Regions from separate parts of the Homo sapiens genome. Here regions 1 and 2 are each linked to region 3. The links come from fine-mapping of genetic effects on gene expression. A gene starts in region 3. Each other region holds a variant in brackets. All regions are shown on one strand. Distances are between the middles of the regions.

What was found. PIP is the estimated chance that this variant, and not a neighbour inherited with it, causes the effect.
Region 1: its variant is the best candidate, but not a certain one, in a credible set for the expression of LRCH4 in esophagus mucosa (GTEx, PIP 0.65).
Region 2: its variant is the best candidate, but not a certain one, in a credible set for the expression of LRCH4 in whole blood (TOPMed, PIP 0.84).

What each region holds. Positions count from the first base shown.
Region 1 is chr7:100,515,839-100,521,056 of GRCh38, forward strand. It overlaps LOC107986829 (a long non-coding RNA gene), which reads left to right. Exons shown (of 4, transcript XR_001745301.2): 3 at 755-918; 4 at 4,046-5,218. Among named protein-coding and RNA genes, the nearest start is that of AGFG2, 21 kb to the right of the region's middle. The variant T/A (reference allele first, on the strand shown) is at 2,963.
Region 2 is chr7:100,109,928-100,115,145 of GRCh38, forward strand. TAF6 (TATA-box binding protein associated factor 6) reads right to left here. Exons shown (of 15, transcript NM_139315.3): 2 at 4,127-4,341; 3 at 3,941-4,027; 4 at 3,689-3,842; 5 at 3,422-3,478; 6 at 2,871-2,990; 7 at 2,181-2,326; 8 at 1,995-2,072; 9 at 1,801-1,902; 10 at 1,212-1,394; 11 at 273-347; 12 at 21-146. The coding sequence starts at 4,282. Among named protein-coding and RNA genes, the nearest start is that of TAF6, 6.8 kb to the right of the region's middle. RefSeq lists a silencer at 699-926. The variant G/A (reference allele first, on the strand shown) is at 2,379.
Region 3 is chr7:100,583,326-100,588,543 of GRCh38, forward strand. LRCH4 (leucine rich repeats and calponin homology domain containing 4) reads right to left here and starts at 2,804. Exons shown (of 18, transcript NM_002319.5): 1 at 2,556-2,804. The coding sequence starts at 2,775. FBXO24 (F-box protein 24) reads left to right here and starts at 3,003. Exons shown (of 10, transcript NM_033506.3): 1 at 3,003-3,339. The coding sequence starts at 3,301. RefSeq lists enhancers at 279-967, 421-715, 688-847, 1,113-1,626, 1,627-2,140 and silencers at 2,282-2,331, 2,372-2,801, 3,562-3,681.

The DNA.
Region 1 (5,218 bases), 67 kb before region 3:
CCACCCCATCCACCTGCCTCCAGGCCCCCAGACCTCCCTCTTCTTATTTTTATTTTTTATTTTTTGAGACGGAGTTTTGCTCTGTCATCCAAGCTGGAGTGCAGTGGCACGATCTTGGCTCACTGCAACCTCTGCTTCCTGGGTACAAGCAATTCTCCTGCCTCAGCCTTCTGAGTTGCTGGGATTACAGGTGCACACCACCACGCCTGGCTAGCTTTTTTAGTAGAGATGGAGTTTCACCATGTTGGCCAGGCTGGTCTTGAACTCCTGACCTCAAGTGATCAGCCCACCTCAGCCTCCCAAAGTGCTGTGATTACAAGCATGAGCCACCGTGCTGGCCAGACCTCCCTCTCTTTCAGCAACTAAAGAGTTAATCCCCAGCATAGCTGTTGATCTCCAGGAACAGGACTTAGTGCTAAAATCAGTGTCTGTTCTAAATGGCTGCCGGCCATGTGGTAACCAGCTGTGAAATATTTTGAATATCACCCCTGGCTGTGGCCACAAAAAGGCAAAAGCCAAGTAGGTGTGGTAAATTTGCTGCAAGAAATGGCCTAACATACTGAGTTGAGGTTTTGGCTTCTGTTTGAAGTAGTGGCAGGAACAGAGCAGATGGGCGGGCCTGGGTTCAGCTTGGTTTGTAAAACAAGATAATTCCTTAGCTTAATGAACAAAGATCTAAGTCAAGTCAACACACTACATAGTCACAGTCCTTCTAGCCTTAACCATCCCTTCTCTCTTTTTTTTTTTTTCGTAGAGATGGGATCTCACTCTGCTGCCCAGGCTGGTCTCCTCCTGCCTTGGCCTCCCAAAGTGTTGGAATTACAAGTGTGAGCCACTGTGCCTGGCCCTGAATAAGTTTCTTGACCCAGAGTTCCTGAAGAGGAGGATGGGAACCTTGGAGGCTGTTTCTCCAGGCTGGTTAGTACCAAAGATGGACAGGACTTGAAAAATAATGGAGGATTACCTTGGGCTTAATTACGTGGGTACTTGATATGCTGTCTTCAATTTAGAGAAAGGGTCTCACTCTGTTGCCCACAGTGGAGTACAGAGGCACAACCACAGCTCATCACAGCCTCAAACCCACAGGCACGGATGGACACAGTGGCTCATGCCTGTAATCCCAGCACTTTGGGAGGCCAAAGTGGGTGGACCACCTGAGGTCAACAGTTTGAGACCAGCCTGACCAACATGGTTAAACCCCGTCTCTACTAAAAAAAAAAAAATACAAAAATTAGGGCGTGGTGGCGGGCACCTGTATTCCCAGCTACTCGGGAGGCTGAGGCGGGAGAATTGCTTGAACCCAGGAGGCAGAGGTTGCAGTGAGCCGAGATCACGCCATTGCACTCCAGCCTAGGTAACAGAGAGACTCCGTCTCAAAACAAATCAAAACAAACAAAAAAACCCAAACAAACAAATAAAAAACTGCAGGCACATGCCACTGCACCTGGCTAAATTTTTTTTTAATTTTTTTAATTTTTTTTTTTAAAGAGATGGCATTTCACTATGTGGCCCAGACTGGTCTCCCAACTCCTAGCACCAAGCAATTCTCCCTCCTTAGCCTCCCAAAGTGCTGGGATTATAGGCATGAACCATTGCACCTGGCCTCTGTTTCTCTTTACCCATCCCAGCTATTTATCTTTACCTGGAAGGGGTAGCAGTATCCTTTCACAGGGACCTAGTCCACTTTACCTAGGGACCAGCCATCTAGGTTTACCTGAAACTGTTATTCGGGCACTGAAAGTTCTGCATCCTAGGAAGCCCCCAGGTCCCTGGCAAACTGGGATGGTTGATCACACTAACTGACTCCTCTGTAGGATGTCATCCTGATCGTCATTGACAATATCATGCTGATTTGCCTTGGACTTGAAGTATCAAAGATCCCCCAGGTCTTGCTGAGACGTGGATGTAATGGGGTTGTGAGATATAACTGGCAGAAATGCAAGGACCTGTCACATCAGTAGAGCTTAGAAAATCATTAGTAATGAATAGTAAGTTGTAATGAATATTCATTAGTAATGAATAATAATTAGCAATGAATATTCCTTAGTAATATAAGATCTCCTTCAAAATGTGGGGGATGGGAGGGCAGAGAATGAAGGACAAATTGCTGCATTTTATTTATTTTATTTTTTGAGACAGGGTCTTGCTCTGTCACCCAAGCTGGAGTGCAGTGGCATGATCATGGCCCACTGCTGCCTCAACCTCCAGGGCTCAAGTGATCCTCCCACCTCAGCCTCCCACCTCAGCCTGTGGAGTACCTGGGACCACAGGTACACACCACCACACCCAGCTAATTTTTATTTCTTTTTAAAAATTATTATTATTTTTGTTTGTTTGTTTGAGACAAAGTCTCGCTCTGTCATCCCGGCTGGAGTGCAGTGGCGCGATCTCGGCTCACTGCAAGCTCCACTTCCTGGGTTCACGCCATTCTCCTGCCTCAGCCTCCCGAGTTGCTGGGACTATAGGCACCCGCCACCACACCCAGCTAATTTTTTTGTATTTTTAGTAGAGACAGGGTTTCACCGTGTTAGTCAGGATGGTCTCGATCTCCTGACCTCATGATCCACCTGCCTCAGCCTCCCAAAGTGCTGGGATTACAGGTGTGAGCCACCACGCCTGGCCTTAAAAATTATTTATTAATTTTTAAATTTTTTTTCTTTCCAATCATTTGTCACAGTCATATTATTTTTAAATTATTTGTAGAGATGTGGGTCTCCCTATGTTGCCCATGCTGGTCTTGGACACCGGAGCTCAAGTGATCCTGTCTTGGCCTACCAAAGGGCTGGAATTACAGGAATGAGCCACTGCATCAGGCCAACTTGCTACATTTTATACTTTCAACTAATAAGGAATTCTGGAAGCAGCATCTACCTCTATTTTAGCAGGGCTTTTTTCACTGCAAGAAACAAAAAAGTTCACTCAACAAAGCTCAAGTAAGAGAAAGAGATAGATAAGGGAGACC[T/A]GATCTCTTAGAACTAAGCCATAGTGGAATCAGAATTCATGTAGGTTGAAACCCAAGGAAGTTCTGAGTCCAGGAAAAACTCTAGGTGCTTCACAATAGGAATTGGCGAATGGGCCAGACACGGTGGCTCACACCTGTAATCCCAACACTTTGGGAGGCTGAGGCGGGCAGATCACAAGGTCAGGAGATGGATACCATCCTGGCTAACACGGTGAAACCCCGTCTCTACTAAAAATACAAAAAAATTAGCTGGGTGTGGTGGCACACGCCTATAGTCCCAACTACTAGGGAGGCTAAGGCAGGAGAATCGCTTGAACCTGGGAGGCAGAGGTTGCAGTGAGACGAGATTGTGCCACTGCTCTCCAGCCTGGGCGACAGAGCGAGACTCCATCTCAAAAAAAAAAAAAAAGGAATTGGTGAATGTTCCCTCTCCCTCCAAGTGTCAATGTGATTTAGCCACCACCTACCACTTGTTAGTGTTTGTCTCCTTCTACCCGGTTCCACATTTCTCACCTAAAAGGCCCAAGAAAGAAAATCTGATTAATTTATCTTTTCATATTTATTTATTTTTTAAGATGGAGTTTCGCTCTTGTTGCCCAGGCTAGAGTGCAATGGCGCGATCTCAGCTCACTGCAACCTCTGCCTCCTGGGTTCAAGCAATTCTCCTGCCTCATCCTCCTGAGTAGCTGAGATTACAGGCATGCACCACCACCGCCCGGGTAATTTTGTATTTTTAGTAGAGATGGGGTTTCTCCATGTTGGTCAGGCTGGTCTTGAACTCCCAACCTCAGGTGATCTGCCCGCCTCGGCCTCTCAAAGTGCTGGGAATACAGGCATGAGCCACCGCGGCCAGCCTATCTTTTCATTTTTTAAAACTTATGTTTTAGGTTGGGTTTTGTTTTGTTTTGTTTTGTTTTGTTTGGAAACAGGGTCTCACTCTGTTGCCCAGGCTGCAGTAGTGCAGTGGCATGATCATGGCTCACTGCAGCCTTAAACTCCTGGGCTCAAACAATCCTCCCACCTCAGCCTCCCTAGTAGCTGGCTACCACACTGGCTAATTATTTTACTTTTTATTTTTTGTAGTGATGGAGTCTTGTTGTGTTGCCCAGCCTGGCGTCTAACCCCTGGCCTCAAGCGATCTTCCTGCCTTGGCCCCCCAAAGTGCTGGAAGTATAGGCATGAGTCACCACGCCCAGCCAAATTTGTGTCTTATTTTTAATAAATTTGGACGTGGTCGTAATTTAAAGAGTTAAATACTTCCAAAGACATGTTAGAAAAAAGAGAAGATCCTTTTCAACTCTCCTCCATTTTCAGCTCCTCAGAAGTAAGCATTTTTTCAGTTCTTATAGCTGATCTTTTGTTATTTGGTTTATATTTATATGTCTAAATAATACAGTTATGTCTTTAGCTCTTGGTTTTTTTTTTCAGTATTACCTATTATCTATTGACTTACCGTGTGGACAGTGAGGGTTAGCTCTCTTTCACTTCCCAGTCACACACACCAGTCACACACACACACACCAGTCACACACACACACACCAGTCACACACACACACACACACACACACACACTTCCCATCCCACCATCCTCTGAACACAGACAGTCCCCCAATTTAGGATGGTTTGACTTAATGATTTTCTTAACTTTACAATGAGTTAATCAGGACTCAGTCCCATCATAAGTCAGGGAGCTAGGATGGTTTGACTTAAGGATTTTCTTGATTTTATAATGAATTAATCAGGACACAGTTCCATCATAAGTCAGGGAGGCTCTGTATTTGTCATTTTAGTTAGAAAGAGATTTAGGATTTTATGTATGTGTGTGTATATATATACACACACATATATGTATACATATATATATAAGTATATATGTATATGTGTGTATATGTATACACATATATATACGTATATGTGTGTAAGTATGTGTGTGTGTGTGTATATATATATATATATATAGAGAGAGAGAGAGAGAGAGAGAGAGAGAGAGAGAGACGGAGTTTCACTCTTGTCACCCAGGCTGGAGTACAATGGTACGATCTCGGCTCACTGCAACCTCCGCCTCCTGGTTTCAAGCGATTCTCCTGCCTCAGCCTCCCAAGTAGCTGGGATTACAGGCGCCCACTGCCACGCCCAGCTAATTTTTTTTTTTTTTGGTATTTTTAGTAGAGACGGGGTTTCGCTATGTTGGTCAGCCTGGTCTCAAACTCCTGGCCTCAGGCGAGCCACCTGCCTCGGCCCCCCAAAGTGCTGGG
Region 2 (5,218 bases), 470 kb before region 3:
GGGACAGGGGCTTCAGTCACCAGCAGGAGGCTCTGCACATGGTCTGCTCCAATCCGGTCAATGTTGCTCAGCACAGGGCCGTCCAGCACACTGCGGATCCGCTCCCCTTCCTGCTGCAGCCGGGGCAGAATCAGAGTCTTGATAACCTGTTAGAAGGGAAAAGGACAAGCAAAAGCCGGAGGGTCACCAGGGTCTCCCAGATGGGGGTACAGTGCCCTCTATAACCTCATGACTGTGTCCCCTCCCCCATTTCTTCCTCCCAGAGGCCTAACATCGTGTCCCAGCTCAGCCAAGCCTGCGATGGAGCCATAACGAGTCGTCCAGGGCGTCTTCTCGTCCACCCAGCTCTGTAAGGGGAAGGAAATAAACTAAGATGAAGGGGTCTGAAAGGATGATTGACAGGGACCTAAGTCTTTCATAGACACTTTCCTTGTAAATCATTAAGACATTACAATGAGGCCAGACGTGGTGGCTCACACCTGTAATCCCAGCACTTTGGGAGGCCGAGGCAGGCAGATCACCTGAGGTCAGGAGTTCCAGACCACCCTAGTCAACATGGTGAAACTCTGTCTCTACTAAAAATACAAAAATTAGCCAGTTGTGGCCAGGTGCAGTGGCTCATACCCGTAATCCCAGCACTTTGGGAGGCCAAGGCAGGCAGATCACCTGAGGTCGGGAGTTCTAGAGCAGCCTGACCAACATGGAGAAACCCCGTCTCTACTAAAAACACAAAATTAGCTGGGTGTGGCGGCACATGCCTGTAATCCCAGCTACTCGGGAGGCTGAGGCAGGAGAATCATTGGAACCCAGGAGGCGGAGGTTGTGGTAAGCCAAGATTGCACCATTGCACTCCAGCCTGGGCAAGAAGAGCGAAACTCCATCTCAAAAAAACAAAAACAAAAAAATTAGCCAGTTGTGGTGGCAGGTGCCTGTAATCCCAAGTACTCAAGAGTCTGAGGGAGAAGAATCGCTTGAACCCAGGAGGCAGAGGGTGCGGTCAGCAGAGATTGCACCACTGCACTCCAGCCTGGGCAAGAGCGAGACTCCATCTCAAAAAAAAAAAAAAAAGGTATTACAGACAAGCCTCAAGACCCTTAGACCCCCACAAGTTCCAGTCCCTCTTCCCTCTGCCCCCTTGTTTCCAGTGTGACTTCCCCCAACCAGAGGTGGCCAGTGATGAAGCAAATGACGCTCAAGTTTTCCTGGCTCACCTTGGTGAAGGTCTTGGTGATCCGGGACTGGATGTTGTTAGTGGTTGTGCTAAAATGCTTGCAGATCTGGGCCACCAGGCGGGCAGCAAAGTCTCGGAGTGCCCAGTGATTGTCCACATCTGGTCGCAGGCACAACTGTCTGCTCACGATGCAGGTCATCACAGCTGGAATCAGCTCATGGACCTAAGGGAGAAAGGGCGGGACAGCTGATTCTGGTTTTGTTTGTCTGCTTGAGATAAAGTCTTGCTCTGTCACCCAGGCTGGTGTGCAGGGACACAATCATGGCTAACTGCAGCATCAATCTCCCGGGCTCAAGCAATTCTCCCATCTCAGCCTCCCAGGTAGCTGGGGCCACAGGTGTGCACCACCATGCCTGGCTAATTTTGTTTTGGTTAATTTTTTTTGTAGAGATAGCAGTCTCACTACTGTCCTCAGGCTGTCCTCAAACTCCTGAGCTCAAGCAATCCTCCCACTTCGGCCTCCCAAAGTTGCTGGGATTTCAGGTGTGAGCCACTGCTGACCACTGACTTCCTGTTGGTGGCAGCAGGGTCCCTAGTCCCTGGAAGGGAGGATGGGCAGGATCACTCACGTATTTTTCTAGATAGAGCGTGGGGTTGTCCATCAGCGCTTTCACCATACGCATCAGGTAGATGAGTAGGGCCAGGTTGTTCTGAACCACGTTCACACGGACCTGTGGGAGGGAGAAGTGCTGGGCATGGGGCAGGGAGACCCTCACAGGAGCTTCCACTGCCGTCCCTGCACTGTGGAACCTCATGCTCTCACCCCCTCCGAGATAAAGGTACTGAACCGTGGCAGCATCTGATACAGTCCAGGGTCCGTGGCAATGCTTTGCAGGGCTTCCTGTGGGAGGAGGGAAGCCAGTCAGGTGGGGGTGGGATGTGGGGAGCAATTCATAGGGCCCCCAGGAGGAGGCGTCTCAGGGCCAGGGCAAGCTGGTGGGGCCCTCACCGCCCTCTTGGCCTCGCAGGAGCCCACGCAGGCCTCGGTGATCTCCTTGTAGTAGAGCTGCTGCTCCACAGACAACTCGTGGATGCTCCGGGGCTTCAGTCGCAAGGGGGCCCCCTCCAGCAAGGGCGGCGCCTTCTTCTCTTTCCCTGTGTGATTGGAAAGGTGGGTCTGACAAAGAAAGCTCCAGAAGAAACCTCA[G/A]TAACAGAAGAACCTTAACCCTCCACTTCCCCTGAGACCCAGGAGACCTGGCTTCTTCTTAGGCTCCCCCATCCTTTCTGGGGCTCTGGCCCTGACCTCAGCCACTTCACCAATGGCCACATGGAGGCCTGGCATGGTGGCTCACACCTGTAATCCCAGCACTTTGGGAGGCCAAGGCGGGCGGATCACATGAGGCTGAGTTTGAAACCAGCCTGGCCAACATAGCAAAACCCTGTCTCTACTAAAAAAAATTACAAAAATTAGCCGGGCGTGGTGGTGGGCACCTGTAAGCCCAGCTACTCAGGAGGCTGAGGCAGGAGAATCGCTTGAACCCTGGAGGTGGAGGTTGCAGTGAGCTGAGATCGTACCACTACACTCCAGCCTGGGTGACAGAGTGAGACTCTGTCTCAAAAACAAAAAAAAAGGAAACAAAACAAACGGCCATGTGGCTTTGGGCAAGAGTCCAGAGAGGCCTAGCCTAGGAGGACTGACCTTTGCCGTCGGCTGTGGTGGCCCCTTGACCTTTGCCCTTCAGGGGTCCGTCTTCCTCCTGGCCTGGCTTGGCTGACTTCAGGGGTTCTGTGGCTTCAGCCTTCTGTTGCTCTTTGGGAGCTGGTGGGAAAGCAGGCACAGCGGGAGGGGTGATGAGCATAGTAGAAAAGTAAAAGGTGGGAGGAGGCCGGATGCGGTGGCTCATGCCTGTAATCCCAGCACTTTGGGAGGCCAAGGCGGGTGGATCACCTCAGGTCAGAAGTTCGAGACCAGCCTGGCCAACATGGTGAAACCTCGTGTCTACTAAAATTACAAAAAATTAGCCGGGCGTGGTGGTGTGTGCTTGTAGTCCCAGCTACTCAGGAGGCTGAGACACAAGAATCGCGTGAACCCAGGAGGCACAGGTTTGCAGTGAGCCAAGATTGAGCCACTGCACTCCAGCACTCCTGCACTCCAGCACAGGCAACAGAGTGAGACTCTGTCTCAAAAAAAAAAGGTGGAAGGAAGGGGAAAGGGACCCAGAGACCCAGAGGGTGGGGCATGGAGGTTACCTGGGGGCGGGTTCTCGGGGATAGCTGGCTGGCAGCCCTCGATGCTCAGCCAATGAGCTGCAAGGAAGGCAGGTGTCAAGGTGAATTGCCACGCATGGACATTGGGGAGTTGCCCCATGCTATGGAAGCGTGTTTCCACTCCTGCTCCCCTTGCAACTCACCAGGGATCTCACACTGAGCTTTTCTTCTATTGTGAGGCTCCTCACACCTACACACATCTGTCCTCCTTTCCCTCCTCCCTGCCACCCTGCTCTCCCCTCCCCCAACCTTTGAGGCAGACGTCCAGGGGCACCCGGGGCAGAGGGGTATTGATGATGTCGCTCAGATCAACCTCCTTCTCCTCATAGAAGTAAAGCTCCCGGCCCCCACCAGAGGCGAAGCGGAAAGGAATGAACTCCTGGGCGTGGAAGCCATAGAGTGGCTGTGGCAGGAGAGAGGGGCATGGGTAAGAAGGGAGCCGGAGGAGACCTGGCTGAAGGATGGCGTCTCACCCCCCCCCCGCCTGTCTCCCCAAATCACCTCGACATTCTTTAGCTTCAAGGCGTAGTCAATGTCACTGGTGGTGAGCTTCTGCCGCTTCCCCATGTGCATGAACTTCAAGGCATCCTGGGGTCGGTGACAGAACAGACATCAGCCCAAAATCCTAAGGACGGGGCCCTGGGTGACATGGACCCAATGTAGAGCTGGACAGAAGGGCCGGGTCACCTGTGCGATCTCTTTGATGCGGTAGCTGACCTCATCCGTTAGCAGCTGGCAGGTCTCCTCCTGAATCTGGGCGATGCCCATGGATTCAGCCACCACCTTCATGGACTCCGAGGGCAGCACAGTGTTGCTAAGCTTCAGCTTCTTCTCCTCAGCCATTCTGGAGTCCCTCTTCTCCTCCCTGGAAGGATGAAGCCCCCGGTGGAGAGACGGAGACCCTGGCAGAGGAACGGGGCAGGCAGAAGAAAAAGAAACGTGAGACACAGGGAGAGGGCCAACAAAGGGAGGACAGTGGAGACAGGGGAGGAACTCCGAGTGTCTTATGTCCATCCCCACGTGAGTCAGCCCTGAGGTGTAACAGAGAAAGATACAAATCTGGGCTGGGGCCAGGTTCAGTGGCTCACGCCTGTAATCCCACCAGCACTTTGGGAGGACGAGGCGGGCGGATCACTTGAGGTCAGGAATTCGAGACCAGCCTGGCCAACATGGAGAAACCCCATCTCTACTAAAAATACAAAAATTAGCAGGGCGTGGTAGTGCACACCTGTAATCCCAGCTACTAGGGAGACTAAGGCACGAGAATCACTTGAAACCAGAGGGCAGAGGTTGCAGTGAGCCGAGATCACGCCACTGCACTCCAGCCAGGGTGACTCCGTCTCAGGAAAAAAAAAAAAAAAATCTGGACTGGGCCTAGTGGCTCATGCCTGTAATTCCAACACTCTGGGAGCCCAAGGTAGGAGGATCGCTTGAGCCCAGCAGTTCACGACCAGCCTGGACAACACAGTGAGACCCCATCTGTACAAAAAATACAAAAATTAGCTGGGTATGCAGGCACAGGGCTGTTGTTCTAGCTACTCAGGAGGCAGAGGTGGGAAAACTGATAGAGCCCAGGAGCTCCTAGGCTCAAGCAATCCTCACACCTCAGCCTCCCAAGTAGCTGGGACTATAGGTGTGTACCACTACACACAGCCAATTTTTTGCAGGGGCAGGGGCAGAGACAGAGTCTCACTATGTTGTCCAGGCTGGTCTTGAACTGCTGGGCTCACGCAGTCCTCCTGCTTCGGCCTCCCAAAGTGTTGGAATTACAGGCCTGAG
Region 3 (5,218 bases):
TGGAGCACTGCCTTGCTATGCGGAGGCTGGCAGCCTTGGGATTCCCTGTAGCACGGACCCACTAACGGCTTAGACCTGGAGAAGCCTGCCTTTCTGTTTCCTCGGCCCAGCCTGTCCTGGGAGGGGCCCAGGGCCCGCGAGGCGGAGTCCCAGGCCACAGACCTGGTGAGCTTCTCCAAGGGCCCTTCTCAGGGAAGGGCAGGCCAGCAAAAGCAAGCAGAGGAGAGAAGCCGGGTATATCCCCCAAGGAAATGAGTCTTGTGACAGGAAATGAAGTAGAAACAATCTGTCAGGTTCTGGCTCTGGTAGGCCCCGTGTTTACCAGGGTGGATGACAGCCTGATGCCCCGGGACCCCTTTCTCTTCCTCTCTGCCCAGCCCTGGTGCACAGACAGAAGCCCTGGCCTCAGAGATGACCGTTCTGGAGAGGGTGGGGGGATGGCATTTGCCCCTCCCAGCCTCGCCTCCACCTGCCCGCTTTCTCTGCAAATGTGTTTGTGTGTGTGCATGTGGACGAAGGGGGTGGAGACCGAGTTCTCAGAGTTCTGATGGGGTAGGCGGTGGCGGGGACAAAAGCTAGGAGCGGAAGGGAGCTCAGGCAGGAGGCAGGGCACTGGGGGCACAGGATGTGGTCTGGGAGAGAATGAGCTGCACTTCTCCTTTGCAAGATGGCCCCTCCCCGCCACCTCAGGATTCTTCCTACTATCACCCCAGGGAGCCTAGTCCAAGGGAGATCAGGGACCCAAGACTAGGCGACACGCAGCGAAGACACTCAGAAAGAGATGGGAGACGGGAGGGGAAGGCTCAAGGCAGTCCGGGCAGCAAGGCACTGATGCTTTTCGTCTGCTTGGAGGGCGAGGAGAGATGGAGGGCAGGGTATGGGCAACTGTATGTTTTTGTCACTTCCCCTTTCTGTCCCTGCTTGCGGAGAGGGGACAGAGGAGAGAATTCTGGACAAGAGGGACCCCACTTGGCCTAGAACCTGGGCCCTGTGTAGAGAGTGGGGCAGAGGAGGGTTCTTGGGAAGCTGGGATTTCCGACCCCCCCCCAAGCTCACAGGAGCACGGCTGCACCCTGAGCCGGAATGCTGGGGGAGGAGGGGGCCGGGGGCGGGAGCTGGGAGGGGCCGGGGAGCTCCGGGTAGTTTTCCCCAAGAGTCCACACAGGGAGAGACAGCCTAAGGAAGTAAAGAATAACATTTGGTCTTTGTCAAAAAACAACCAAGGGGGAGGGGAAGGGAACAGACAGTGAGTGTCACACAGCTGCTGAGGTCAATCTGGAGTGTGGGGTTAGGTGGGGGTGGGAGGGAACAGGGCTGTAAGGGGCAGGAATGGCTCCTGGAGCTCACTCATTCCCCATCTCAAGTGTTGCAGAGCAGGCGAGATCAGTGGGGAGGTTTCGACTGGTTCTCCCCAGAAGAGGGAAGAGGATGTGTGCCAGTGCCGGCCTGAGTGTTCCCAGGTGAGCAGGCACCTGCTTAGGGAGAAGTAAGCACTATCCTCCAGCTCTGGTCCCCCACCGTGCAGATGAGAGGAGGAAGAGGCCTGGGCTGGGGTGAGGCTTCGGGAATGCAGTCCTCCTCCCTGATCCTGATCCCCACCCCCAGCTGCCGGCCCAAGGTCATAGGCTGCCTCCTGAGTAGCTGAGGCTTGACTCACCTGTCACAGTTAAGTCCCCCACCCCCTACCATCCACAGACACCAGGGTGGAGGGTGCATGGTTGGACAGATCCTGCGGGTGGAGGCGTGGAAGGACAGTCTCTAGCTGGCCAGCACTCCCAGCTAGGAGATAAGATTTCCTTCCCTCCAGCAACGGCCTCAAGTCCCTCCCCCGGGGGAAAGCAGAAACTGAAATGGGAATTCTAAGATCCCTATGAGGTCACAGGCTCCACAGTGACCTCACAGGCTTAGGAAGGAGGAGGAGGAATCTCAGATAAGCCGGTTGGGGATAATAGGCGGAAGAGCTCAGGGAGAAAAGAGTGAGGGGAGGTAGAGATTTGTTTCTTTCCCATAGGCTGGAGAGCTGCGTGGACAGTGGAGAGGGCCAGGACCTTAGGGGGCGGGGTTGCGGCACAGAAAGCAGAAACCTCGGGCTTAGGGGCCAGTCACTGGGAAGGGGGTGCCCGGGGCTGCTCGGATCTCGGTGGGACGGGGGTTAAGAGGTGTAGATGAAGAGGGAGAGAAAGCAGTTATTAGAGGAGCTCGTGGGGACTGCTTCATAGACCGATTGGAGCTGAGGTTAAGAGATCATGTAAATAAGCCAACCAGGTGAGGGGCGGGACCATCCTACAGGTGCGCAGATATGCAAATAAAGAGAAAGGAGGAATCTCTCCCAACGCTCGGAGGCGCAGGGCGTTCTGTGCAAACGAGAAGCACGTTCATTGTCTAGGGGGTTCTCAAAGATGGGAGAGGATGGCTGCAGGTTTAGGGCAATCAGGAGGGGCAGCAACCCTGGCCGCCAGGTGAAGGGGCGGGCCCGACTCCCGGGCCGGGCGGGGCCCGGGGTGGGGCTATGCAAATGAGGGACCCGGTTGGGCCCGGGGCCCGGCTGCACTCACCAGCCTGGGTGATGTCTGACAGGTCGTAGCTACGGGCCGCGCCCCGGGGGAAGTGCTTCAAGCGCCGGTTAGACAGGTTCAGGGTCCCGGTGGCCACGGCCTCCTCTAGGGCCCGCTCTGCACTGCGTCTCCCCGGCAGACCTGGAGACCCGGGCACGGAGGTCGTGGCTGCCGCCTCCTCACCCCCGGCGGCGAGTGGAGCCGCTACGGCCGCCGCCATCCGCTCCCGGCGGCTCCCGCTGCCTGACTGACGGGACCGGCCGTCCCTCCTTCCCCCACCCCCTCCTTGGAGCCGCCGTAGTTGCCTCAAGGGGGAGGGAGCGGTGTCCGGGACCGGACGGACCAATCGTGGCCCCGAGACGCGTCAGAAGCGGCCAATCAGAACCCGTCAGTGGGGGTGGAGCTCCGGCGCCGGAGTCTGACGAGAGAAGGGAGGGGAACAAGGATAGAGCGCTCGCCAACGGCCGACGCTCCAGGCCGTCCCGCCCAGCGCAGCTGCACCCAATCACAATGCTCAGATCGGGAGGTGGAGCCAATCAGGTCCAACCAAGAGGAGGGGACACCGGCACTCCACTAGCAGGAAAACGGGCCGAGGGACCGCAAGCAGGGGGTGCCTAGTCCTCGTCCCCCAAAGACCAATCGTAAGCCAGATACAGGCGAGTGACTGTCAAGAAGGCCAATTAGAGCCTCCGAAGGGAATCTGGACCTGCCTCTTCTCTGAGGGACGGCTCTACCTACCAATAGCATGGGCGAGAAGGCGGTCCCTTTGCTAAGGAGGAGGCGGGTGAGCTAGAACTTTAAGACTGAGGTTAAGAATGAACGCGGAGCCCCTGGCCGGCCGGGAACGCAGTTCGCCGCTGCAGTGGCGAGTGCGAGCTGGACGTGTTAGGGGGCTAGCCGGCGTCCAGGGCTTGAGGGGATTCGGGCGACTGCTTGAGGCCAGTGCACTGGCGGTTGTCGCAGCTGAAGGGGCAGCGGGGGGACCTCCGACTGTGAAGCCTCTGGCAGGGGTCTCGGGACCCCCGGGCTGGGGGCGGGCGGGGGGCTTCCCAGAGCCTGGAGATGCCCAGCTCGAGGAGGGAGGGTGTAGGTGCAGCGTTGCACGGTCTGCCGTCTCACCCGAGGAGCTCCCCTGGACAGGAATGGAGAGGGGACCAGACCACGGGGTTTTAGAGGCTTAGAAAGGATCTCACCGCCTAGAACACGCCCTTGGTGCTACGAATGCAGAAACTGAGGCAGAGGGAAGTTGATGCGTTAGCAAGAGCGAACAGCAAGTTCCTGACAGCTGGCTTGCTCTAGAAACCAGGTCTCTGGATCCTCCACGCACAGCCCTTTCCCGCTCCCTCAGTTTTCACAGTGGATGTTTTCACTCCCTTCCTCTCTTCCTCCCTCCCTCCCTCTCCCTTCCGTTCCCTTCCTCTTTTTATTTTTTTATTTTTTGAGATGGAGTCTCGCTCAGTCGCCCAGGCTGGAGTGCAGTGGCGCGATCTCGGCTCACAGCAACCTCCACTGTCCGGGTTCAAGCAATTCTCCTGCCTCAGCCTCCCGAGTAGCTGGGACTACAGGCGCCCGCCACCACACCCGGCTAATTTTTTGTATTTTAGTAGAGACGGGGTTTCACCGTGTTGCCCAGGCTGGTCGCAAACTCAGGAGCTCAGGCAATATGCCCTCCTCGGCCTCCCAAAGTGCTGGCATTACAGGCGTGAGCCACCGCGCCCGGCCTTTTTTTTTTTTTTTTTAAGAAGGTCTGATTCTGTCGCCCAGGCTGGAGTGCAGTGGTGCAGTCATGGCTCACTGCAGCCTTGAATGCCTGGGCTCAAGTGATCCTCCTGCCTCAGCCTCCCAAGTAGCTGGGACCACGGGCGGCACCACTGCACCTGGCTAATTTATTTTCAATTTTTGTAGAGATGGGGTTTTGCTATGTTGCCCAGGCTGGTCTCAAACTTTTGACCTCAAGCGATCCTGCCTCTGCCTCCCAAAGTACTGGGATCACAGGCGTGAGCCACCGCACCCGGCCCACAGTGGACTTTTTCTTTCTTTTGAGACAGAGTCGCTCTGTTGCCCAGGCTGGAGTGCAGTGGCTTGATCGCAGCTCACTGCAGCCTCAACCTCCCACCTCAGCCTCCCGAGTAACTGGGACTACAAGCACGCACCACCATGCCAGCTAATTGTATTTTTTGTAGAGACAGGGTCCTACTATGTTGCCCAGGCTGATCTCAAACTCCTGGGCTCAAGCAATGCTCCCACCTCGGCCTCCCGAAGTGCTGGGATTATAAGCGTGAGCCACAAAGCCTGGCCCACAGTGGACTTTTTCTATTCACAACCTCTCGTTTGCCTCCTGGGGTGAAATGGAGTGGATAAAGGGGACCCAAATGCAAGAGGAATGGAAAATACCTTTCTGTCTACTTGGAGATCTTCCTTTCTAAGTGGCATGAGTCCCTAATGCAGTCCCCTCCCTATGTGGTAGGTTGCCCAGAAATAAGTCACTGAAGTTGCTTTCTCCTTAGTTCACATCTCAGAGGTTGATATTCCTGAGTAGTTGCTGAAGAATTAAAATTCCATCTCAGGCATCCCAGCCTAGCCATGGCTAGGCACCATACATAAGGGAATTTGGGTGGTCAGTCTGGTGCAGTCAATGAACGGATCTGTGACACTGTGTGGTG